Homo sapiens: one gene and its partners. The protein of the gene in region 5 purifies or fractionates together with the protein of the main gene of each other region. This does not show direct contact. Each region holds a gene or a part of one and is shown on either strand. Other genes may lie near its edges.

Region 1 (3,500 bases), on a different chromosome or scaffold from region 5:
GCTGGAGGAATGTTACACGGCTGCTGGTGTTTTCCACAGATGCCGGGTTTCACTTTGCTGGAGATGGGAAACTTGGTGGCATTGTTTTACCAAATGATGGACAATGTCACCTGGAAAATAATATGTACACAATGAGCCATTATTATGTAAGTGCCTGGTTCCTTACATAGTGAATGTGTTTATGTTGGATTTTAATGTTTAATACTAAGAGCTTGTGGGTGACTGGCTTGGGGTTTCTCAGGGTTTGAGGTTTTGCTGTTTTGGTAAGTAGGGGTCCTGATTGAAAGTGCAGGAAAGCTAGTGTTGCTGTTTGTGAAGATGCAGCTTTGTATTTGCTTCCTTCTGCTCAGACAAGGGCCTCACTGGGGTGGGAAAGGGATGCCCAGATGCCACTTTCACTCTTTGCCTCAACTCCCCGCCCACAGCATTTGGTAGCACAGTCAGTACTCTTTCTAAATAAATAATTTATCTAGTCTCATACTCTTTGTTTTATACGATTTTTAAAAGCAGTCACTCTGCCTTTATTGAAAATAAATATTGGCAAAGCATTCAAGTTCTAGAAGAAATCCAAATGGTAAATCTTGGTCTTTTTCTTAAGTTGTAGATAATAGAATATTTAATTACTGACTATTCTTTAATTTCATTGTCCTTATATTTAATATACATAGATAAACTTACTATTTAAAACCTTTTGAATATGGAATTTTTTATTCATACATGAAAGTAAAGAGAAGAGGATTAGCAATTCATGTATACACACGACTCACTTCAGCAGTTTATATTTGATACTGTTATTTGAAAGCAGTCTTGTAATCTAGTTATATGTATGCAACTAGATGTAATCTAGCTATATATGGATTATATATGTAATCTAGTTATCTAAAGCAGTCTTGTAATCGAGTTATGTGTAATCTTGCATGTATAACTAGATTGAAAAATTAGAAGAGATTATAAGGGTGTATTTAAATACTAAATTATATTACTTGATTTCTTAGGATTATCCTTCTATTGCTCACCTTGTCCAGAAACTGAGTGAAAATAATATTCAGACAATTTTTGCAGTTACTGAAGAATTTCAGCCTGTTTACAAGGTAAATGTGTGAGATAAAAAGAACAAGATTCTAAACATTTTTGATTGTTAGAGGCAAATCATGTCTGAATTGAAATGTGGGAAAATGCCACCAGATAGGCAAACCGAATTTTACAAAAGTGGTTTATATTAATTTTTAATCACATATTATAAAACTGGTTTCTAGGTTTGACTCCTAAAGTTAGTTAGGAGGAAACATGGGAACTGGCATTTAAAGATAAAAGTTGCTCAGTGGATCCTAATTGGTTGAATGAATAGCAGTTGTATTTTACGTGTTTTATCTTTTAATTGCAGGAGCTGAAAAACTTGATCCCTAAGTCAGCAGTAGGAACATTATCTGCAAATTCTAGCAATGTAATTCAGTTGATCATTGATGCATACAATGTGAGTACATCTTAAATAAGATCAGTTTTGGACAATACCCTGTTGAGAATACTTTGTACAAAGAAAGTAAAACTTCCTTCATACACACTTTAGCGAGCCCAAAGTACTACAGAAAAACTTAAATTCTGTATGTATCTAGAGGAAAAACTTTATACATATTGTCTTACAAAAGCAAGATTCATGGCCTAAACAAAGTGAAAATGTGATAAAGGCATGTGGGGAGTATTTCCAAATAACTGTTTGTTTATCATTAAGGAATAGATCTCCTTGTTAGAAAGCAATTGTAAAACATAACTTACATTTAAACTTACAGGATTTCTCCAATCTTTTTCCTCCCCAAAATATCCTTTATAGAGTCATCTATTCTGATGAATTGTGCTAGAAAAGTTTTTTTTTTTGCCAATTCTTCTCTTCCCATATATTCAGAGGATATGGGTTTCTATTTCAGGAGGTACACACTCATATATACGTATACCATAAAATATATAAAAATGTAAATATACATGTGATTTGCCTATTTCAAAAAGATTTATAGTGTTGTTTTCCCCTCACAGATGGGAGGAAGTTGAATTGAAATTAAAGAGGAATTGGCTTATCCTTTTTGAGCATAATTCAGTGTACTTTAATCACACCGAGTTAGCCTTCATTAATAATCATTTAAATAATCTGAAGGCGGTTGTAATTTGGTAGGTAACCCTTGTGTGTCTCGTGCACCACTTTCAGCCCCCATCCCCCTAACCCTTTGGCAGCTTGAATTTTAGACATTTTTACTTCATGTCATGGGGGTACCATAACGCTTTGGAAAGGCCAGCCTACCATATGAGGCTTCCCTTTTTTATGGGGTACCATAATGGTTTGGAAAGGCCTGACTTGGAGGGGTTTTTATAAAGGTTTTTAATATTTTACTTGTTCCACAGCTTTTCCCATTCTCCCCTGTCTTAGATAATTTTCCTAACTCTTGTTCTTTCAGGGGTGTGAACAAGAGATAGCTTGCCATTGTACCCTTCTCCATTTGTCCTGAATAGTCTCATATGTTAAACAAGCCCTGGCTTGAATCCTTCCTTCTTGGGGGATTTTGTTTTTTTTTTTTTTTGGCTGGGCTACAATGGTTCCTTAAGCAAATTTGTTCCTAGACTGCATAGTTGATTGTTTACCCTAGTCCATAGTTAGCTGGAGAGGTAGGACTACAGAAATGCCATTTTGCCGATGGGGAAGACAGCATTTATTTCGTTTTTTTTTGGGGGGTTTCTGTTTTTGTTTTTGTTTTTGTTTTTTAGATGGAGTCGCACTCTGTTGCTCAGGCTGGAGTGCAGTGGTGTGATCTTGGCTCACTGCAACCCCTGCCTCCCGGGTTCAGGCGATTCTTCTGTCTCAGCCTCCCGAGTAGCTGGGATTACAGGTGCACACTGCCATGCTTGGATAAATTTTTTTTTTTTTTTGTATTTTAGCGGAGATGGGGTTTCACTGTGTTGGCCAGGCTGGTCTCCAACTCCTGAGCTCAGGCAGTCCACCTACCTTGGCCTCCCAAAGTGCTGGGATTACAGGTGTGAGCTACCACACCCGGCCTATTCCACATTTTTAAGACTCCTCCTAATTAGTAACAGCCCTCTGCACTGTGTGATCCTGAGTATTTTAACTCAGTGATTAAAACAGGAATACTCTTTTCAATTGTGTATTTTATTTTAAAGATTTGATCCTTATTAATTAAAACCTGTTTCTCTGGCCTCTGTGTTTTCTAGTTACTCAATTGGATTTGGCTTGTAGATACTTTATTGAAATATATTTTTTTCTGAGCAGTTTATCCATTGGTTTTATGCATTCAAGTAGCATTTTGTTTGACTTTTCCTGTGTATAATTAGGCATTCTTTTAGTCCCTTTCCTCAGAAGTCATTTTGGAAAACGGCAAATTGTCAGAAGGCGTAACAATAAGTTACAAATCTTACTGCAAGAACGGGGTGAATGGAACAGGGGAAAATGGAAGAAAATGTTCCAATATTTCCATTGGAGATGAGGTATGTTGTATAAA
Region 2 (3,500 bases), on a different chromosome or scaffold from region 5:
GAGGCATACACACGTGTTAGCACGTTGCCCGTGTGTGCAAATGGGCTAACCAGGCTTCTGAAGACTCTTACTCTGGCGGGGAGCCCAGACTGGTACCACAGCCCAGAGGGGCTGTTTAGACAGCTGTGGAGGCCACAAAAGAGCTCCCTGTTGCTTCTCAGGCCCTGCCCTGTGGTGGGTGTGGAGTCTGTGTAGGTCTGGTGGGGAGACGGGGGTGTTCTGGTCATTCCTGCCCAATAGGCAACACCAGGAGGGTGGAAGTGGACCGGCCACATCATTAACCCTGTGCAGCCTGGGCAGGTGGTTTTAGGGAAACCAAGCTGAGGGGGTTGGGGTGCTGAGCTTGCTGGCAGGAGGAAGGGGTGCTTTGGGTCTTAGACCCCAGCCTGGGGGTGACAGATTCTGGCCCTGCCTTGGCATCAGGTATCAGAAGCATGTGCACACGTATCGCATTCTGCCTGATGGAGAAGATTTCTTGGCTGTGCAGGTAGGAGCTTGGGCCCCTGACCCCTGACCTTGATCCAGCCTAGGGCTTGGGGACCTGCTGGCTGACCCTTCCTCCCACCCTTGCTGGCCCACAGACCTCGCAGGGTGTGCCTGTGCGCCGCTTCCAGACCCTGGGTGAGCTCATCGGCCTGTACGCCCAGCCCAACCAGGGCCTTGTGTGCGCCCTGCTTCTTCCTGTAGAGGGTGAGCGAGAGCCGGACCCACCGGATGACCGGGATGCCTCAGGTACTTCCCAGTGTGCAGGTCCCCTCCCTGCCCCTGTCCCTTGGCTCTACCTGCCTCTTCCCATCCCCCCTTCTCAACCCCACCTCTCCTGTAACCCCCTTTCCCTTGGCCATGATGCCGGGGCCCTTTAACCCTCTTTCCATGGAAGTCACTTTACAGCTGCATCGTGCCTCCTACTCCACTGAGTGTGGGAGGCCCAAACGGCTGCCCACTGACCCCTGCCCACAGATGGGGAGGATGAGAAGCCCCCGCTGCCCCCGCGCTCTGGCTCCACCAGCATTTCTGCCCCCACTGGGCCCAGCAGTCCCCTGCCAGCTCCTGAGACTCCCACAGCTCCAGCTGCTGAGAGGTGAGACCCCCATCCCATCCACTGAACAGGAGACCCTTTCTCCTCTGAGAACTATTTCCCTACCAAAGGTGGGGAGGCCTTCTAAGACCCCACCAGGGACCCCCACCCCACCTCAGCCCAGAGGCAGATAACCTGATCCATCCCGCCCTGGTTGCCACAGGTACTATCTCCTCTAGGGATGGGGCAGAGGTGCTGGGACAGGTCAGCAGGACCTCCACTGACTTCTTAACCCCTCCCCAAAGTGCTCCCAATGGGCTGAGCACCGTCTCGCACGACTACCTGAAAGGCAGCTATGGGCTGGACCTGGAAGCTGTGAGGGGTGGAGCCAGCCACCTGCCCCACCTCACCCGTACCCTCGCTACCTCATGCCGGAGGCTGCACAGGTATCTGGGACATCCAGCCCCATGTATTACACCCTTACCTCTGACCTGTCCTCACCTGCTTCCCGGCTGCACAGGTGCCCTGATCTCTGATCCTGAACAGTGAACTAGCCATTGCCTCTTGACTTTCCTCACTGGTAGCCTTTATCCTTGTGGTGAGGTTGAGGCTACACCCAGCGCCCCCTTCCCTATACTTAGGTCGGGGTGGGAGTTCTTTTGATCTGATGTCTTCCCTAGTGAGGTGGACAAGGTCCTGTCAGGCCTGGAGATCCTGTCCAAGGTGTTTGACCAGCAGAGCTCGCCCATGGTGACCCGCCTTTTGCAGCAGCAGGTAGATTGTAGGGAGACCTCTGGGAGGTGCGTTCGTGTTCTGGAGCTGGGTGGGAGGCTCTGCTTAGGTGACTCATGTACAAGCCTGGTTCTTCCTCCCCCCAGAACCTGCCACAGACAGGGGAGCAGGAACTAGAGAGCCTGGTGCTGAAGCTGTCAGTGCTAAAGGACTTCCTGTCAGGCATCCAGAAGAAGGTGGCATGATCTCTGACCCTTGACCCCCGATTCACTGGCCACTGTCATTGGCCTAGCACTGATCTCAACCCTCAGTCTACAACTTAACATTGGCCCCAAGGTCAATTGTGTCCCTCCCTGCCCCAGCCTTCAGTGTGTCCCCTGACCCCGCCCTGCCCTTGTTCCCTCCAGGCCCTGAAGGCCCTACAGGACATGAGCTCCACAGCACCCCCAGCTCCGCAGCCATCCACACGTAAGGCCAAGACCATCCCCGTGCAGGCCTTTGAGGTACATGGCAGTGGGGCCTCACAGGGCCAAGGGTGGTTGGAGGTGACCAGGGTGCTGCCTACTCCAAGGTCTTGTCAGCAGCCTCCCCACCTGGCCTACAGGTGAAGCTAGATGTGACCCTGGGTGACCTGACCAAGATTGGGAAGTCACAGAAGTTCACGCTGAGCGTGGATGTGGAGGGTGGGCGGCTGGTGCTGCTGCGGAGACAGCGGGACTCCCAGGAGGACTGGACCACCTTCACGCACGACCGCAGTGAGCCAGGGCCAGACCTGGGAGGGGTGGGCAGGGCGGAGCCCCTGGCCTAGGGGCACAGGCCCATGTGACCGGTCCTCCATGCCCTAGTCCGCCAGCTCATTAAGTCCCAGCGTGTCCAGAACAAGCTGGGTGTTGTGTTTGAGAAGGAGAAGGACCGGACTCAGCGCAAGGACTTCATCTTTGTCAGTGCCCGGGTGAGCAGCAGGCTGGGCCAGGCCACTGGGGACTGCGGGGGTCCCCCACATGGGTGCTTCCCATTGGAGGGTAAGAAAGGGAACACATGATGTAGGCATGCCATCCCTCCTGGCAGGGGTAGGTCTGACAGGGTAGAGGGTGTTGAGAACGGGTGGCCTGAGGGTGGATAACATTTGCCAGCACTGTTATATGCTTGAGCAGTGGGTATGCAGTGGAGAACCAGACAGACCCTCTCCTCATGGACATGAGCCAACTGGCAGGGTATCCCTGTGGACGGGGGGCTTCCTGGATGCCTACCCGCCCCTGAGTGGCTGCTGTTCCCCCAGAAGCGGGAGGCCTTCTGCCAGCTGTTGCAGCTCATGAAGAACAAGCACTCCAAGCAGGACGAGCCCGACATGATCTCAGTCTTCATAGGCACCTGGAACATGGGTCAGGCCCGGGCTGGGGCTGGGGCGGGAGAGAGGGATGGCCCCAGAGCAGGTGCCTAACCCCTCCAGACCCACCTCACCCCCTTCACCTCCAGGAAGTGTACCACCTCCAAAAAACGTGACATCCTGGTTCACATCGAAGGGTCTGGGGAAGACCCTGGACGAGGTCACAGTGACCATACCCCATGACATCTATGTCTTTGGGACCCAGGAGAACTCAGTGGGCGACCGCGAGTGGCTGGACCTACTGCGCGGGGGCCTCAAGGAGCTTACGGATCTGGATTACCGCCCGGTGAGGGGGGGTCATCTTGTCCAGGACCCTGTCCTCACACACCACCTCCAAACTAGCCTACTTGACTTCATGGGCAA
Region 3 (3,500 bases), on a different chromosome or scaffold from region 5:
CATCATTGTTTTCTAAGTATCTGTGGAGGGAATGACTTGAGAGTGAAGAGTGTGAAGTTTGCCGCTGTGGTCACTGTCCTTGGTTTCTGTGTCTGGGTTAGTGTCACTGACCTGTAGCTTTGGCCCTGCAGACCGGGGAGCTCTGCACAAAGCCATCAGCCTCGAGCACGCTGTTCACATCATCGAGGAGACCCAGCTCTTCCAGGACTTTGAGCCAGTCCAGACCCTGCTGCTGTCTTCAAAGAAGGTAAAGTGACGCAGGCAGCTGGACCGGGGGCTTCTCCGCTCGGTGGCTTTGATTCTAGGTGACAGGAGAGTTGGCAAGCTGGAGTCGGGCTCCTGGGCAGGCCCCTCTGTCTGTCTGCCCTGGGTGAGCCAACCTTCAGAGTTTGACACAGAGCCATTCCGTGAGCTGTGGGATCTGAATTGGGGAAGGCAGGAAGGCAGACCTGGGGAGACGGGACTTTCTCTTCGAAGTTGCTGGAATGTCATTGAGTTGTTGGTGCAGCTTTACAGGCTGTGGAGAGGTGGGCACTGCTCCATGAAGACACCTTTTTATGCCCTGAGCTTGGGGGGTGTGCAGACTGCATCTGTGGGATATGATAGTGATACAGCTGACTCGTCACCGTGGAAAATCCACAAGAGAAGTGGTTCGTCTCATCTGTAAAGCTGTCTCCACCTGTGGCTGAGACTCTGGTCTGGCCTGCAATACTCCCAAGCAGCCCTTGGCAGGGGTGGGTGGGCGGGCATCCACGCTGGCCTTTAGGGGGCTGCCTCCCTGGCCCTGGCTCCTAACGGGACCTCCAACCACCTTGTGGGATCCAGGCCCAGTCAGTCCTCTCCTCCCTCAGCTGGGAGCAACAGGCAGAGGAAGAGGGCCCCTGTCTGGCCGGGTAAGATACCTACCCTTGGCAGGTGCGTATTTGCAAACACCCCTCCAGGTCTTCTGTCCTCTTCCCTCCCCTGTATCCACAAAGCTTGGGAGCCTGGGTCCTTTTACGTGGTCACCTCCCCTCTGCTAATGGAGAGTTCTCCCTCAGATCTGAAAGGAAAAGAGAATGAAATAGCCTGAGCAAGTTATAAGCCACTGGGTACTGGCATCTGTTCACCAGCCTCTCGGTCTCCAGGACACAAAGGGAGCCCTGGAGATTTGAAGGGTCGACGCTTTAGCCACTGTGGGGCCTCACCCCAGCCTCGTTGTTGAAAGAAGGGGACCCAGAAGCTCTTCTGGGGCCATCGTGCTGTTCAGTGGCCTCAGCCAGACTGGGCAGGCACCTACAACATCTCTAAAATGTGGACTTCTCATTAGAATGAAGATTGGGCCCCTGGTGTGGACATTCGTGAGAATGACACTCTGTTCCAAGGGTCACTTAGGGACCCAGGCTGGTGGAGGCTTCCAGGGCACATGGGCACTGATCCTCAAAGGCAGAAGGGGGTAGGAAGAGGAGGGCCGCACAGAGGGGGTTACGGGTCAGTGCCCACCCGCCATCTCCCAGAACTCGGTCACATGGCCACACCAGGGCAGCTGGCCACACAGGGAGCCTCGCGCCCAGGAGGAGGAGCCAGTGGGTTTGGGGAAGCGCTTGCTGGTCCTACTGGACCACCCGACCCGCCTGTCTCTGTAGGAGCCTCCATTCGTGGGGACGTGGCTTAGTTGCCTGGACAAGCGGAAATACATCCTGCCTGCCGTGGGGTCCTGTGCCTTCTCCTTGGGCCTCAGTAGGCTCCAGGTGGGGGTGGAAGGCCCAGCTCCATGGCCATGGCAGCAGGAAGTGGCTGTTCAGTGGTAAAAAGACTGTGCCGCCTGACCCCATCAGGCTCTCTCACGGTGATCAGCAAATGGAGAAACGGCCAGTACCACGCCCTCCCCCTGTCCTACAGCTGGGGAGGTGCGCTGTGCCTCCACCCTCACCTCCTCTCCCCTGATGACAAGCATGGGGTTTTGCTTTTTATTTTGGTAAATACACATCAGATGAAATTTGCCGTCTTAACCATTTTTCATTGTGCACGTCAGTGGCATTAAGAACATTCACGTTGTTTTGCAGCCATTACCACTGTCTGTCTGCAGGGTGCTTTTCATCTTCCCAAACAGAAGCTTTTTACCTGTGAAATACAAACTCTTCATTTTCCCCTCCTCCAGCCCTGGGCAGCCGCCATTCTGCTTTCTGTTTCTGTCTGGGTACCTCATATGAGTGGAATCACACAGTATTTATCCATTTGTAACTGGCTTATTTCACTTAACATAAAGTCCTCAAGGTTCCTCCCTGCTGTAGCAGGGGTCAGGGTTTTCCAAGGCTACATACTCCTCTGTCGTATGTGAATACCGCATTTTGTGAGTCCCGCATTTTGTGTGTGCGTTCATCCCTTGATGGACACGGTTGCTCCCACCTTCTGGCTTCTGTGAACAGTGCTGCTGTGAACGTGGGTGTGCAGATACCTCAAGTCCTTGCTTTCCATTCCTTGGGCGCACACAGCAGATGCGGTTTGCTCGGCCCTCTCTGAGCCCACCGAGTAGGCTGTGTCTGTATTTTCACCAGGACTCCTTGGGATGCTGAGCTACAGCTAGCGTGGCAGAGGGCAAGGAAGGCACTTAGACAGCTCAGTTGCCTCTGATCACGTCCACCGTCACTCCAACCTGCCCTCGGGGTCTGACGCGCACACACAGCAGCAGAGACAGAGATGGGAGCATGAGAGCTGCCTGCAAGGGGACAATCCTCAGGCCCAGGGAAGGCGGAGACAGGGGGCGTCGAGGGGCAGGAGTGCACAGGACAGGCTTGCTCTCAGCGGGCCTCACTCATGCTGCCAGGTGCCTGGTCAGGCTTTTTTTCTTTGCCTTTAAAAATTTTGTCTTGAAATAATTTTAAATTTACAGAAGAGTTTTGATGATTGCACAGAAGGATCTTGAGCGCCCCCACCTAGCTCCACATGTCCGATGTCTCACATAGCCAGTGTGCATTTATCTGAGCCAAGGTGCTGTCATGGTGCAGTGCGTTACCTGAACCCCAGACCCTGGACCCTCCTACCTCCCGCCCACCACATTCCTGGCTCAGCACCTCAGGTTGCACTGGACACTGCATCTCCTCGGCTTCTGCTCTGTTCCTGCCTCCCTGACCTCAGCACTCCTGGAGAGGAGTAGTCTGGTGTTTTGTGGTGTGTCTGGTGTATTCTTGTGATTATCTTGGGGTCGTGGTTTTAGGGGGAGCACCAAAGAGGGCGCTTTCTGGGGATGGGGCATCTGTATGACTCGCACCAGCGTGATGACCTTGGTCATTCTGTCCAAGTCACCACCGTCTTTTTCCATGTCGAGTGTGTCGGGGCATGTAGTCCACACTGGGGGTGGGGGAGAGTGAGCCCCACCTCCCAGGGGAGTCATGTGGGAAACCCCCACAGTCATTCATGCTTATTTGCAGGGACAGACTTGGAGGCTACAGAAATGCCCTGTTCTCCCACCCACTGACATCCACATCGACCAGTGGGTCCTGCCTGCAGCAGTTACAGCT
Region 4 (3,500 bases), on a different chromosome or scaffold from region 5:
GGGCTGACCCCCCCACCTCCCTCCCGGACGGGGCGGCTGGCCGGGCAGAGGGGTCCTCACTTCCCAGTAGGGGCGGCCGGGCAGAGGCGCCCCTCACCTCCCGGACGGGGCGGCCGGCCGGGCGGGGGGCTGACCCCCCCACCTCCCTCCCGGACGGGGCGGCTGGCCGACCCCCCCCCCCCCCGCCTCCCTCCCGGACGGGGCGGCTGGCCGGGCAGAGGGGCTCCTCACTTCCCAGTAGGGGCGGCCGGGCAGAGGAGCCCCTCACCTCCCGGACGGGGCGGCTGGCCGGGCGGGGGGCTGACCCCCCCCACCTCCCTCCCGGACGGGGTGGCTGCCGGGCGGAGACGCTCCTCACTTCCCAGACGGGGTGGTTGCCGGACGGAGGGGCTCCTCACTTCTCAGACGGGGCGGTTGCCAGGCAGAGGGTTTCCTCACTTCTCAGACGGAGCGGCCGGGCAGAGACGCTCCTCATCTCCCAGACAGGGTCGCGGCCGGGCAGAGGCGCTCCTCACATCCCAGACAGGGCGGTGGGGCAGAGGTGCTCCCCACATCTCAGACGATGGGCGGCCGCGCAGAGATGCTCCTCACTTCCTAGATGGGATGGCGGCGGGGAAGAGGCGCTCCTCACTTTCCAGACTGGGCAGCCAGGCAGAGGGGCTCCTCATATCCCAGACGATGGGCGGCCAGGCAGAGACGCTCCTCACTTCCCAGACGGGGTGGCGGCCGGGCAGAGGCTGCAATCTGGGCTCTTTGGGAGGCCAAGGCAGGCGGCTGGGAGGTGGTTGTAGCGAGCCGAGATCACGCCACTGCACTCCAGCCTGGGCACCATTGAGCACTGAGTGAACGAGACTCCATCTGCAATCCCAGCACCTCGGGAGGCCGAGGCTGGCGGATCACTCGCGGTTAGGAGCTGGAGACCAGCCCGGCCAACACAGCGAAACCCCGTCTCCACCAAAAAAAAACGAAAACCAGTCAGGCGTGGCGGCGCGCGCCTGCAATCGCAGGCACTCGGCAGGCTGAGGCAGGAGAATCAGGCAGGGAGGTTGCAGTGAGCCGAGATGGCAGCAGTACCGTCCAGCTTTGGCTCGGCATCAGAGGGAGACCGTGGAGGGAGAGGGAGGGGGAGGGGGAGGGGGAGAGGGAGAGGGAGAGGGAGACTCAGCAGCAATTGGATTTCTATGTTTACCTTGGCTACTCTAAAAATGAGAGCTAAAGTTATAGATGCTACAGTTAAGATAGCAAGCATATTGGTATGGACTTGCTTTGAAATGAGCATATACATTTTAAAAAGTTATTTATTTTTATACCCAGAAATTCTAACTTTATACTTTTTGATCTAACACACTTGAGAATTCAAAATACTTCCTCTGTCAATCTGCTGTTTGTCTTTGTCTCAAGCGTTACAGTTTTGACCTTTCTGTTTCTTCAGGACTCCTCTGATTTTCTTCAGGCCAAGCCATTTGTAGTTTGCAAGTGACTTTGTAGGTTTAGCAACTCTACTCTCTCACCCAAGAGTTACCTATCCAGTTATGGCAAAGACTGTTTCTTTCATTAAACAAAGTTATTAATCAGTCAGGAGAGAGACTTTTCACATTCTGAATTTACAAACTGTGCTTTCTTAAGTTAAATGGCATGTTAGGAGTATTTCTGATATGAAATTGGAAACTTGCAGACACCAGAAGGCATTGCTTATCTTTGTAAATACACATGTTCCAATTAAAATAGGTACTAAAATATTTTGGTGGCACCTCAAAACTCCCAATTTAGATTTAATTTAGATTAAAACACTTACTCTTTTTAATAAAGTTATAAAATTAATTATTAAAATTGCCTATTGAAGATTAAAGGCAGTGGAACGTTTATTTTCCTTACAAAACAATTTTGTCTTCAATAAGTGTGATTGTGTTAATCAATTATGCTATTAAAAATACAACTGCCGTGTTAAATCTGACTCATTTGTCATGACAGTTTTTATAATTATAGAAATTATACCTAGCTGCTTATATAGCCATAATCCTGCAATAAGTATAAATAATTATCTCTATTAATTCAGTTTGCAGTTACTCTCTATTAAATCCCGAGTTAAATGGCAATTTGGGGACCTTCATTTAAAATCCTACTAAATCTCTGTTGTTCCATCTGACTGCCAAAGCCCCACATATGCACCTCCTACTGTTGATTCCAGAAACCAATTTATGAATAAAATAGTTTTTAAACCACAAGTATTTAAAAGGTCCATTTAAGCTTGAGGTTTGAGGCTCTCAAGAAAAAAGGAAAGAGAGTGTACACATTGGGTAGAGGATGCTGACGAAAGAGATAGAACAAATCTTGGTGTCTGGGTATTTCAGTTTGGAAAACAGTATATAAATTTCAGTTTGAAAAAGTCTGCTTGACACCTTCTATGTAAGCCCAAAATACTAGAGTATACTGAGTAACGATTAACAACTTGTATTTCCATAGGTGTGGATGAGGTCACCATTGTCAACATTTTGACCAACCGCAGCAATGCACAGAGACAGGATATTGCCTTCGCCTACCAGAGAAGGACCAAAAAGGTACAGGCAATTCCAGGGATGGAGGGCATTTCTTGTTGAATTTTTGTTTCCTCAGACATTGCTTTTTCTTTTCATGAATTGTGGCTCTCATGCGCAAAAGACTTGTGGGACCCTTGGATATCTAAGATTTTCTTCTTAAATCCTTGTAAGAGTCACTGCACATGTGTGTGTGCGTGTGTGCACGCGCGCGTGCACCTCAGGTCATCAGGCATTAGGTTCTCATAAGGAGTGTACAACATAGATCCCTCGCGTGTGCAGTTCACAGTAGGGTTCGCGCTTCTGTGAGAATCTCATGCCACCGTTGATCTGAGAGGAGGCAGAGCGCAGATGGTCACGCTCGCTTTAGAGTGCTTGGGAGCTCCTGTGTAAGGACAGTACCCTCCCCCAACCCAGGCTACCTGGAGGGAGAGCTTCTGGGAATAGAAAGTTAGGAATAGGGAACAACAACAATAACAACAACAGGCACCATTTATTGAGTGCTTACTTTGGGCCAGGCACTGTGCTCAGTTTTGTACATGTAGCAACTCATTTCATCTTTATGACTTCTGCTGGTTCTTGATAAGATGTTTCTAATTTAATTTTAGGATACTAGCCTCCACTGAGTGTTGATCCTAACAAGCTCCTCTCATTTTAAAAATATACACTTGAATTCTTAAGCTTTTTGCAACGAGTGGGCTTAGTTGTTAGTTCATTTGGTCTGCAAAGCTATCTTCAACATGCCATGCTCCTACTATTTAAAGGGTCTTTGTGTGCTTTTTCCCTTTGCTTGTCCACTAGTGGTTAAGAAACAACCAGTGCGTGTTCGTCCTTTATTTTGTCAGTTGTAGGAAATTTTATTTTTAAGGACGTGCTGCTTTATTTTTAACTTCTTGCTATTAAAAGCTTTTGATTTATTCTTGGACAGTGCAGTAAGTGTGGCTTCCTGCAGCTCCCGTTTGACTT
Region 5 (3,500 bases):
ACAAAAGAGGAAATTCTGTCATTTGCAACAAAAGGGATGAACCCAGAGGACACTATGCTAAGTGAAACAAGCCAGGCACAGAGAAGCCAGTACCTCCTGATCTCACTTATATGTGGGATCTACTTCTAAAGTCATAGAAGTAGAGAGTAGAATGGTGGTTACCAGAGGCTGGGGCGAGGAGTGGAAGGGAACAAGGAGATGTTGGTCAATGGATACAAAGGTTCAGTTAGACAGGAGAGTAAGTTGTTTAGATCTATTGTACATCATGATGACTATAGTTAATGATAATATATTGTATATTTAAAAATAGCTAAGAAAGTGAATTTCAAATGTATCACCACAAAAGAGCAAGTGAGGCAATGGATTTGTTGACTTGACTTAATCATTCTACATTGTATACCTATACCAAACATCACATTGTAATCTATAAATGTATACAATCATGATTTATCAATTAAAAATATTTTAAAAAAGAAATAATAAAGACAATTAGCTATAAAATTAAAAAGGCAAAGGGGTTTTCATTAAAATGAACCTGCATCAAAATCATAGTAAATGCAACTAAAGAGCTATTTAGCCCCAGGAAAAGTATGAACTATGCTGAGCCTGGGTTTTTAATAGTGTTGTGGTAAAGATTAATGAGATAAAATATATAAAGCAGAATACAGAATTCCTGGGAAATATTAGGTGTACAATCAATAGGTGGTGTCATTATTAATCTCTGGGAGATTCCACTCTCTCATCTGTAAAATGAATACAAAATACTTACTTTTTAGTTATTTCTTGAGGATGGCATATGGAAAGTGCCAGAAACCTATCTGGTGTTTAGCGAATGCTGTTATGTAAGAATATCTTGCAGGAGCCCAAGTGAGAGATGATAAACTAAGGCAATGGCAAGTGGGGTGAAGAAGAGGTCATATTCCAGGGAGCATTTTGAGGTAGAACTGACAGGATTTAACAGCATGGAATTGGAACATGAATTTGGGAGTAATCAACATATTGTAGTCCAATTCCTGGGAATCTAGTGTGAGAACAGAAGAGGACCCAGGGGTGTAAACTTGAAAATACCAATATCCAAGGGGAAGGAGGAAGAGAGAAAGTGAGGGAATGAAGCAGAGAAAAAGTGATATGAGATGAAAAAGAATCAGAAAAGCAGAGCCATGGAAACTCTGGGAGGGAAGACTTCCACAGAGTACTAGTAAGATAAACATATATTTGTGCTAAAGGATATGGCAATCAGATAGGTCATCAGTGAAACTAAGGGAAGCAATTTCAGCATTGAAGCTGTGTTGACTATTGCTCAAATCCCACTGACAGCACCTTTATCATTCCTTTTTCACATTCTACTCACCTTGAACAATTAATTCCACCTCTTTTCTGTTTTTCCCAATCAAATTAACTCCTTCACACACATAAATTCCAGAATCTTCCATCCTCATAGCAATTAAGGTGAGAGTTGCATTTCCAGAAAGGTGCTGTAGATTCCCATTATCTAATTTCTTACTCCAGAAAATCTCTGGAGCTGGTAGACCCTCGCTGGAACAGGTCATGGTCACAGAGCCACCTTCTTGCAGCTTTGTGGATGGATTCACAGAAATAACTGTATTCTTGGGTGATACTGAAAGGGCAAAAAATAATATTAGCAATTGCTAAGCATCATCCCAGTGCAACAGAGGTAATGTATTTCTCTTAGTATTTATGTGCTTCCACCAATTTGATGAAATTACTCTGCCAAATTAGTATAAAGAACTGCTGAATCATTCAAAATAGTCTATCCAGTTTCTGACTAAACTGATCAAGTTTAGTTGATGTTTCATATTTTTCAGATGGTTGTAGATACTCAGAAATTAAGAAAAACCATGTGGCTTAACCTCCCACTTAAGGGTAAGAGTCCCATTTAAGCATTCTTGCCAAGTGCCCATTCAAGTCAGCTTCAACATTTACTGAGAGAATCAACCCACTGCTTTCCAAAAGAGTCAATTTGATTTTTGGACAGCTCTACATATTAGCACATTTCTCCCTATTGAGCTGAAATCTTCTCTCTATACTATTTTAAACATATTGGCCATAATTCAGCCCTGTGCTGTTACAGAATAAGGTAAATCACTCTTTCATATAACTGTCTTTCAAATGCTTAATTAGATGTCTTTTCCAGCCAGGTTTTGTTTTCTCTTCAGAAAAATATCCTCTATCTTGACTATTCTTCTCAAAATATTGTTAAAAGCCTTCCCAGCTCATTCTCTTTCAGCTAAACATGCCGTAGTTGGCAATACTCCCTTTAAATGTGGTACCCAGTGCAGAACATAGCATTTTAGTCCAGAACAGAGCACAGTGAGGCCACTCCTACACAACGCTGGGACTACAAGACTCCCACAAATCCCCTGGCAGTATCAGGGAGATTGGAGGCAATCAAACCCCGTCATTTTTCCCCTGTCCAGTGCACCTATGTATGTATGTGCATATGCATACACACACACACATACACACACAGAATAAGTGATCACCTTGTCAAGTTTCTGTACCTGTGCAACTAATAGTTCAAGGCATACTATAAGAGTTTACAAAACAATATTAAAATGTTTTATCATTTGAGCCTATTTCCCACTACCCAATCAGGTGGTATTACTATTCCCCTTTTATACACTGGGAAATAGAGAAATTAAGTAACCCAAACTCACACAGTTAATAGAGCCAGAAATTAAGCTCAAGCCTTCTCAGTCCAAATCCAGTGTTCTTTTCACTGAATTATACTATTGACAAACATTATGTTGTGAATGAATACAAATGGAATACAAACTATATACAAGTTTTTTTTTTTTTTACTTTTCTGCTAAGTTTATTGCTATACACAACCAAGGTGGGATTCCCACAAAGACTGGAACACATCGCACAAGTACTTACTGTAGACTTGCAATTCTTTTACAGCCTGCCTTACTGTGGGCACAGAATCCATTTCATCAATGTGTAATTTAGCTCGGCAAACAAGAACTTTTCCAATATCCTCAATGACAGGAGTAAAGGTTACTTCCAAACTCTTGGTTTCCAGGGACTTCCTGTCTGCATCCTCCAGAAATTCCTGACTCTTCATGAGATGATCTCCTTTCAGTAAGTCTATCTCCAGCCTGTCAAATGGGTATACATCAGCAACTGAACACTTGACTGTGATCGGCTTCCCAGCCTCCAGAGGGCCACTCAAATGAATCTCTGGATCCTTAGGAAAAGCTGAAAAGGCCAAACAAATACATGGATGGGCTTTTTGCTAATGTGATATAAGGTCTCTTACCACTTTAACACAATACAAATCAAGTCTAGCGTTTTTGTTAATACAGTCTTAATACGACAGAACTGTTTGAATAGCCTTTCATGATTTGGGGTGAGTTCAAGGCACAAGAATTGGAAGCAAACATTTTTTACAACATTATTCAATTCTGATCCTGTATATATTAAGAGTTGCATGTTATTACAGTAAAAGAAAGAAGAAAAAATAATGTTTATATTGA
Region 6 (3,500 bases), on a different chromosome or scaffold from region 5:
CTTACCATAATATAGGCTCTGCCCAATATCCTACAATTATTTCATACACTAATGTACTCTGTAATGCCAAAGCCCAGCTTAACTCCCTTCTCCAAAAATTTATGCAAGCACACAATCCAAAGATCTTTTTCTCTCTTGCCCTGTAATCACTATTTTCACACTCACTTCACATAACAAATATTTATTAAACATCTACTATGGTACATCATTTTAACCAATGTGAATAGAGCCATTAACAGACGTCCTTATCTTCATAAACCCTACATTTTAATTGTGGAAAACGTGATAAACATAAAAGTAAATGTATGTCAGAAGCTGATAAATGAGAATAAAGTAAGAAATAAGAAAATAAGGTGAGAAGGACTGACTGCTAGCCAAGGAAGGTCTCTAAATAACATTTAAAGGACACCTGTTTAGCCAGGCATGGTGGCATGTGCCTGTAGTCCCAGCTACCCAGAAGACTAAGGTGGGAGAATCGCTTGAACCCAGGAGACAGAGGTTGCAGTGAGCCGAGATCACACTACTGCACTCCAGCCCTCCAGCCTGGGCAACAGAGTAAGACTCTGTCTCAAAATTTTTTAAATTAGGCCAGGCATAATGGCTCACACCTGTAATTCCAGCATTTTGGGAGGCCGAGGCAGGTGGATCACCTGAGGCCTGGAGTTCAAGACCAGCCTGGCCAACATGGTGAAACCCCGCCTGTACTAAAAATACAAAAATTAGCCAGGTGTGGTAGGAGGCACCTGGAATCCCAGCTACTCAGGAAGCTGAGGCAGGAGAATCACTTGAACCCAGGAGGCAGAGGCTGAAGTAAACTAAAATTGTGCCACTGCATGCTAGGCTGAGTGACAGAGCAAAACCCTGTCTCAAAAAATAATAATAAAAATAAATTTAAAATTAAAAATAAAGGACATCTGAGCAGAAGTCCTAAAACAAATAAGAAAAATGAGTCACACAGGTATCTGGGGGAGAAAATTCTGAACAGTCCTTTGCATATGATCCTTTATACGACATAGCTTTTTATGTCCAAAAATGTTTTTTTTTTTTTTTTGAGACGGAGTCTCGCTCTGTCGCCCAGGCTGGAGTGCAGTGGCGGGATCTCGGCTCACTGCAAGCTCCGCCTCCTGGGTTCACGCCATTCTCCTGCCTCAGCCTCCCAAGTAGCTGGGACTACAGGCGCCCGCCACTACGCCCGGCTAATTTTTTGTATTTTTAGTAGAGACAGGGTTTCACCGTTTTAGCCAGGATGGTCTCGATCTCCTGACCTCGTGATCCGCCCGCCTCGGCCTCCCAAAGTGCTGGGATTACAGGCGTGAGCCACCGCGCCCGGCCCAAAAATGTTTTTATGAAGAAAGAAGATATATTTGAATCAATGCTCTGTCAGAACTTCATTGTCAGAAGCAGAAATATTAAAAGATATAAGACTGCACACTAAGGAGAGGGATCCCTTCAGTTGAGGCCAGCTGGACAGTATCTCTCCAGTCCCCCAATCACACCGAGCACCATGCCCGCCCCTCTGGAAACTGTTCATTAACCAGCGCTCCAATAGTTTGGATGGCAATTCTATTATCATCAAATAACTAGTTTGAGCCCCAATAATGACCCAGGACTGCAAGACTTTGACACATCTAAAAAATGGAACATTAAATTCAGTTCCCTTTTAAGCTTTAGTCTGCTTTTCTGAAAATATAGTGTTGTCCATCTACTACTATTGAAAACTGAACTGTGGTCACTCTGCACAAACAAGTATTTTTAACCCACTCTATTGACGCAAAAGAATTTTTAAAAAATATTTTTTAAAACATTTCAGGTTTCTAACACAATACAGAATTTTAAAAATATATGCTGTCAGTTTAAAACAAAAACATATATTTGTTCATTCATACTGCATCTCACTCCAGAAAGACAAAAATTAAAAAGTAAGCAAACAGGCCAGGCGCAGTAGCATGTACCATAATCTCAGCTACTTGGCAGGCTGAAGCAGGAGGATCACCTGAGCTCAGGACTAGCCTGGGCAACACAGTGAAATCCTGGACACACACACACACACACACACACACACACACACACACACACACTTAAAAAGCAAGCAAAGAATAAATTTACCACATTATTAAAAGATTTTCACTTCTCACTAGATTTTTTTTTTTTTTTTTGAGACGAAGTTTCACTCTTGTCCCCCAGGCTGGAGAGCAATGGCGCGATCTCGGCTCACTGCAACCTCCACCTCCTGGGTTCAAATAATTCTCCCGCCTCAGCCTCCCAAGTAGCTGGGATTACAGGTGCCTGCAACCACGCCCAGCTAAGTTTCGTATTTTTAGTAAAGACGGGGTTTCACCATGTTGGCCAGGCTGGTCTCTAACTCCTGACCTCAGGTGATCCACCCGCCTCAGCCTCCCAAAGTGCTGGGATTACAGGCGTGAGCCACTGTGCCCGGCCCTCACTCGATTTTTACAGAAAAATCATTTTGTAATTTTTATAATAATTATATACACATTATATACACATATATAAAATAGCAAAACTGCATTTTGTTTTCTGGTATACTTTTAAGGGATAATTTATCCGAGTTTAAATTTACGATTACCGGCAGGGTGCGGTGGCTCACGCCTGTAATCCCAGCACTTGGGAGAGGCTGAGGTGGGTGGATCACCCGAGGTAAGCAGTCTGAGACCAGCCTCGCCAACATGGCGAAACCCTGTCTGTACTAAAAATATAAAACTTAGCTGGGTGTGGTGGTGGACACCTGTAATCCCAGCTACTGGGGAGGCTGAGGCAGGAGAATCACTTGAACCTGGGAGGTGGAGGTTGCAGTGAGTCGGAGAGTGCAGTGAGCTGAGATCACGCCACTGTACTCCAGCCTGGACGACAAAAGTGAGACTCCATCTCAAAAAAATAAATAAACTTATGATTAACTACTAAGAGCTGAATGGGATTTCAGAACAGACCAAACTTTGTTTCCATTTTTTGATTTTTTGTTATATTCTAAATATATGAAGTACAAGCAAAAGTATATTAAAACCAATTTCAAAGTTACTGTCCACTCTTAGTTGCAAAACTGGAATTCTGTCACAAAGAAATTAATCAGTTAAACTTTCATGTGCATATGGACACCTACTTGCTAACAATTCCTAATCTAAATTTCATCAGCAACTGAAGCTAAACTAAGTATCATTAACTAGCAGAAACATTAACTTTCCCAAAGAAAATAAATCACATAAAATAATTTACCTATTATACAATGGGCCGGGCGCGGTGGTTCATGCCTGTAATCCTAGCACTTAGGGAGGCCAAGGCGGGCAGATCAGGAGGTCAGGAGATCGAGACCATCCTGGCTAACACGGTGAAACCCCGTCTCTACTAAAAATACAAAAAATTAGCTGGGTGTGGTGGCAGGTGCCTGTAGTCTCAGCTACTCAGGAGGCTGAGGCAGGAGAATGGCGTGAACCCGGGAGGCAGAGCATGCAATGAGCCGAGATTGCACCACTACACTCCAGCCT
Region 7 (3,500 bases), on a different chromosome or scaffold from region 5:
CACTCATCTGCCCACAATTCTTGTGTGCCTGTGCATAAAATGGGGAAGAATTTAGCAAAGAGTTTCATATCACAGCTAAGGAATTAAGGTTGGATGCTAACTCTAACGAGAGAGAATTATGGGGACACTGGAAAGGTTGAGGAGTACAAGATATGAGAACGAGAGGGTAACGGGATGGAGGCTGATAAGGGCTATGCAGAAGCGATGAGTCAAGGGATACAGTCAAGGAACTTGCAGACATTCTGGAGATATGAACAGAGAGTTTGGAAGTAGAAGGGCAAAGAGAAGGCCTTCTGGGCTGAGTATTCAGAGTGGGGGTAACACCTTATAGTGGACAAAGACTATACTCTTTCACAGTAATTTCAGATTATGCTACCTCATTTGATCCTATCAGTCCTACACGGGGCAAGTACTGTTATCCCAAATCAGAGGTAAATAAAAGATTACAAGAATATTGAACTGAATTGCACAGCAAAAGCAGGGATGGAGCTGAGACTAAAAGCCCAAGCTGTCTGCTTTCTTGGCAGAGGTGAGGTGGGATAACAGCCCGGTGGGTGAAAGCCAAGTTAGGGGAGACGGGGAGGAGGCAGGGGGCCATTTAGTCAGTAAGATTAAGCAGCAAAGCTCCGCGGTCATCCCAAATACTTTCCCCTACCCACATTCACCTGGAAGATCTTACGCTCTCCCTTCTGCTTCACATACTCCTTGGGCAGGAAGTCCTTCAGGCTACACCAGAAAAGGGAGGGTCAGCATGTGGTAGACAGCATCAGGGGACATGTGGGCCATGAACTGTGGGCCTGGGGGTATGAGGAAATACCTAGGACAGTGTTATCTTTGGGGAGAAAAAAGACTCTGAGGGAATAGAGTCTAGATTATCTTCTGAAATAGAGGTGACTTCGTGTAAACTCTTCTTTTTTTTTTTTGAGATGGAGTTTCACTCTTGTTGCCCAGGCTGGAGTGCAATGGCACGATCTCAGCTCACCAAAACCTCCACCTCCCAGGTTCAAGTGATTCTCCTGCCTCAGCCTCCCGAGTAGCTGGGATTACAGGCATGTGCCACCACGCCTGGCTAATTTTGTATTTTTAGTAGAGATACATGGTTTCTCCACGTTGGTCAGGCTGGTCTCGAACTCCCGACCTCAGGTGATCTGCCCGCCCTGGCCTCCCAAAGTGCTGGGATTACAGGTGTGAGCCACCGAGCCTGGCCAGTATGAATTCTTAATGTGACCTGTGTCTCTCCCTGTAGGGAAAGGGACTGAGGAAAATTAAGTTAGAGGCTCAGTCCCTGAGGGAAAGTGGGTCTAGAGCACCATTTCAGGGAACCAAGAGGAGAAAGAGCTTTCTAGAAGGATGAACATGCACTTAGGAAGCTGAGAAAGCCACGCCAAACTCTGCATTCCAAGAAACACCAGCAGATGAGGCTTGTGAGACTTTTAACCCATGTTCCCTATAGGGAAAATTTTACCCGGTTTCCCTCTGGCTACTGCAGCAAAATTCTTCAGATAATCTCAAAAAAGAGTGACATGCTTGCTTCAGAGATGGGGGTAGGGGCAGAGATACTGAACTACATTCATATTCCAGAGGCAGAGAAGAGACAATGGATGATGGCAACTAAAAGGGTAGCTATGTTGGTCAAACCCTGGTACCTCGGAAGAAGAAATAGTGGGGGGCAGGCTTGGAATGGAGACAGGCCCACTGGGGTCACAATGGCAGGGAGTCCTGGGCCCTGACAGGGTATAGGATGTGGGTCACTCACTCAAGGAAGCCAGCCTTGTGCTTCTGCTCATTGTGGGGCCCAAACTGGATCTGGCATTGGAAGCCAGCAAACTCACAGGCCTTGTCAAAGGAGACAGGGTGGGAGCCATTCAGGATGTCATCTCGTGCCTGGAGAGCACAGGGCAAGGAGGCGAATGTTGTGTGTGGGTGCAAGGACACGCACACTGTGCTTCCGAGCCCTCCCTATTCCTGCCCCACCCCAGCCAAGTCCTCTGCATACCTGCACATACAGGAGGTTCAGCTGTACAGGGTCCCGGGAATCCACATTCTGGTCTGAGTAAAAGAACTTCCTCCGCAGCAGCAGCGTCTCGTGCTCCTCTACACCCTGCTCCCTCAGTGTCCGACCATGGTCCAGCCAGTTCACTGGGATACAGACAGTCCCCTCAGTGCCAAACCCCCATGGCCCCTGTGCTGTCTGGTCTCTGTTTATTTCTGCATTTCCTACCTCCCCTCACTTAAATGTAAGTCCCATGAGTGTAGGACTTTGTTTTCTCACTGATGTATCCCCAGGGTGTAAAACAGTGCCTGGCAGAAGCAGATGCTGAAGCCCCTTCCCACCCTTCCCATTTCAAAAGCCCTCTTTTTTCTAGTTCTGCTTACACTCATCATCTGTGTGCAATTTCTGCTTTAGTTTCTCCATCTTCTTTTCATCTCGCAGCAATGTCTTGTCCTTTCTTAAGGTCCCTGTTATTTCCTCCTTTTTCTCTTCCATCAGCTCTCGAACCAATGAATATTCATCATGATTGGTGATGCCTGAGGAAGGAGATGGCTTGTTAGCTTCCCAGGTACTGCATCCATGCCTTTTGAGAGAGTTGAGGCTTTCTGGCCCAGGCTTTCAACTGTACTAGGGCCCCTTACCAATGCGGGCACAGATGGTCATGAGCATGTCAGTGACAGTCTTAGAGTCATCCACCATGATCGTCTTCACAGTTCCATCCAGCATACGGATCTTCAGGGGTCTCTGTTTCTTCCTGTACTCCATAGTGTCCTGTTAGGGCAGGAAGAAGAGACAGGGGCCTACTCTGAGCTAGGGGTATTATTTCCTCTTTACACAGCCCGAGGGGAGAGAGTGGAGCACTGAAAGGAAGACTATGGTGGTTCGTTCAAAAGCAGGGAATTATGACTGTCTGTTAATAGGAAGAAAGCATGGGGAGGGCTAAGAGACAACAGATGTGGGTGCTGAAAACAGGAGGTGGAACAGGGAGAAGCTGATGGAAGGGGATGTGGTGGTCCTTGATGAAAGGATACTTACCCCATTTCGGAGCATGTAGTAGTCCAAAGCTTTCCCAGCCTCCAGCCATATACCCTTTTTGGGGTCATCATCTGACAGAAAGAGCCCAAAGTCGCTGGCTAAAAGAGAGGATGGATCACTTTAGGCTTATGAAGACCCCAATGTGGCTGAACAGCTTGTACCATGTTGCCCCTGACTATTTCTCCCATGACCTTGGGCCTAAAGAACGAGGGAACCATGGAACACAGACCTGAGGGGTGAGTAGTCTTAGGGGACAAAGGGGTCAACTCTCAAGGCCGAGAGCCTGGGAACAAGAAGGGACTGAAGACTCCCACTCCAGCCACCGGGGGAGTCAGACTCACGAGGACCAGCTGGGGCCTCTGGGATCCGCTCACGAATGATGCGGCAGGCGTCGTACACCATGGTAGACGGCTCAAACTGCATCGTCTTCACCACATTCCCAATGCTGATCTTCAGTGAAAGTGCAACCATG

The links.
Region 1: the proteins of VCAM1 (region 5) and ITGB1 purify together in Homo sapiens (affinity purification with mass spectrometry; 2 studies listed by BioGRID and IntAct, with this or other methods). This does not show direct contact.
Region 2: the proteins of VCAM1 (region 5) and INPPL1 purify together in Homo sapiens (affinity purification with mass spectrometry, with the first as the bait; one large-scale study listed by BioGRID). This does not show direct contact.
Region 3: the proteins of VCAM1 (region 5) and SEMA4D purify together in Homo sapiens (affinity purification with mass spectrometry; 2 studies listed by BioGRID and IntAct, with this or other methods). This does not show direct contact.
Region 4: the proteins of VCAM1 (region 5) and ANXA2 purify together in Homo sapiens (affinity purification with mass spectrometry, with the first as the bait; one large-scale study listed by BioGRID). This does not show direct contact.
Region 6: the proteins of VCAM1 (region 5) and NAA15 purify together in Homo sapiens (affinity purification with mass spectrometry, with the first as the bait; one large-scale study listed by BioGRID). This does not show direct contact.
Region 7: the proteins of VCAM1 (region 5) and TLN1 purify together in Homo sapiens (affinity purification with mass spectrometry; 2 studies listed by BioGRID and IntAct, with this or other methods). This does not show direct contact.

What each region holds. Positions count from the first base shown.
Region 1 is NC_000010.11:32,920,231-32,923,730, reverse strand, and holds part of ITGB1 (integrin beta-1 isoform 1A precursor), read left to right. Parts: coding exon 1-146; intron 147-995; coding exon 996-1,091; intron 1,092-1,384; coding exon 1,385-1,474; intron 1,475-3,345; coding exon 3,346-3,486; intron 3,487-3,500.
Region 2 is NC_000011.10:72,227,767-72,231,266, forward strand, and holds part of INPPL1 (phosphatidylinositol 3,4,5-trisphosphate 5-phosphatase 2), read left to right. Parts: intron 1-423; coding exon 424-487; intron 488-581; coding exon 582-732; intron 733-960; coding exon 961-1,081; intron 1,082-1,241; coding exon of another isoform or gene 1,242-1,323; coding exon 1,324-1,464; intron 1,465-1,698; coding exon 1,699-1,792; intron 1,793-1,896; coding exon 1,897-1,986; intron 1,987-2,157; coding exon 2,158-2,253; intron 2,254-2,354; coding exon 2,355-2,505; intron 2,506-2,595; coding exon 2,596-2,702; intron 2,703-3,029; coding exon 3,030-3,132; intron 3,133-3,226; coding exon 3,227-3,423; intron 3,424-3,500. UniProt on the Homo sapiens protein: Phosphatidylinositol (PtdIns) phosphatase that specifically hydrolyzes the 5-phosphate of phosphatidylinositol-3,4,5-trisphosphate (PtdIns(3,4,5)P3) to produce PtdIns(3,4)P2, thereby negatively regulating the PI3K (phosphoinositide 3-kinase) pathways.
Region 3 is NC_000009.12:89,383,114-89,386,613, reverse strand, and holds part of SEMA4D (semaphorin-4D isoform 1 precursor), read left to right. Parts: intron 1-131; coding exon 132-247; intron 248-508; coding exon of another isoform or gene 509-667; exon of another isoform or gene 668-3,500. UniProt on the Homo sapiens protein: Cell surface receptor for PLXNB1 and PLXNB2 that plays an important role in cell-cell signaling. Regulates GABAergic synapse development. Promotes the development of inhibitory synapses in a PLXNB1-dependent manner.
Region 4 is NC_000015.10:60,363,487-60,366,986, reverse strand, and holds part of ANXA2 (annexin A2), read left to right. Parts: intron 1-2,463; coding exon 2,464-2,558; intron 2,559-3,500. UniProt on the Homo sapiens protein: Calcium-regulated membrane-binding protein whose affinity for calcium is greatly enhanced by anionic phospholipids. It binds two calcium ions with high affinity. May be involved in heat-stress response.
Region 5 is NC_000001.11:100,722,742-100,726,241, reverse strand, and holds part of VCAM1 (vascular cell adhesion protein 1 isoform a precursor), read right to left. Parts: intron 3,223-3,500; coding exon 2,902-3,222; intron 1,619-2,901; coding exon 1,352-1,618; intron 1-1,351. UniProt on the Homo sapiens protein: Cell adhesion glycoprotein predominantly expressed on the surface of endothelial cells that plays an important role in immune surveillance and inflammation.
Region 6 is NC_000004.12:139,308,005-139,311,504, reverse strand, and holds part of NAA15 (N-alpha-acetyltransferase 15, NatA auxiliary subunit), read right to left. Parts: intron 1-3,500. UniProt on the Homo sapiens protein: Auxillary subunit of N-terminal acetyltransferase complexes which display alpha (N-terminal) acetyltransferase (NAT) activity. The NAT activity may be important for vascular, hematopoietic and neuronal growth and development.
Region 7 is NC_000009.12:35,722,196-35,725,695, forward strand, and holds part of TLN1 (talin-1), read right to left. Parts: 5' UTR 3,500-3,500; coding exon 3,370-3,499; intron 3,127-3,369; coding exon 3,029-3,126; intron 2,765-3,028; coding exon 2,635-2,764; intron 2,530-2,634; coding exon 2,377-2,529; intron 2,140-2,376; coding exon 1,997-2,139; intron 1,885-1,996; coding exon 1,757-1,884; intron 727-1,756; coding exon 666-726; intron 29-665; coding exon 1-28. UniProt on the Homo sapiens protein: High molecular weight cytoskeletal protein concentrated at regions of cell-matrix and cell-cell contacts. Involved in connections of major cytoskeletal structures to the plasma membrane.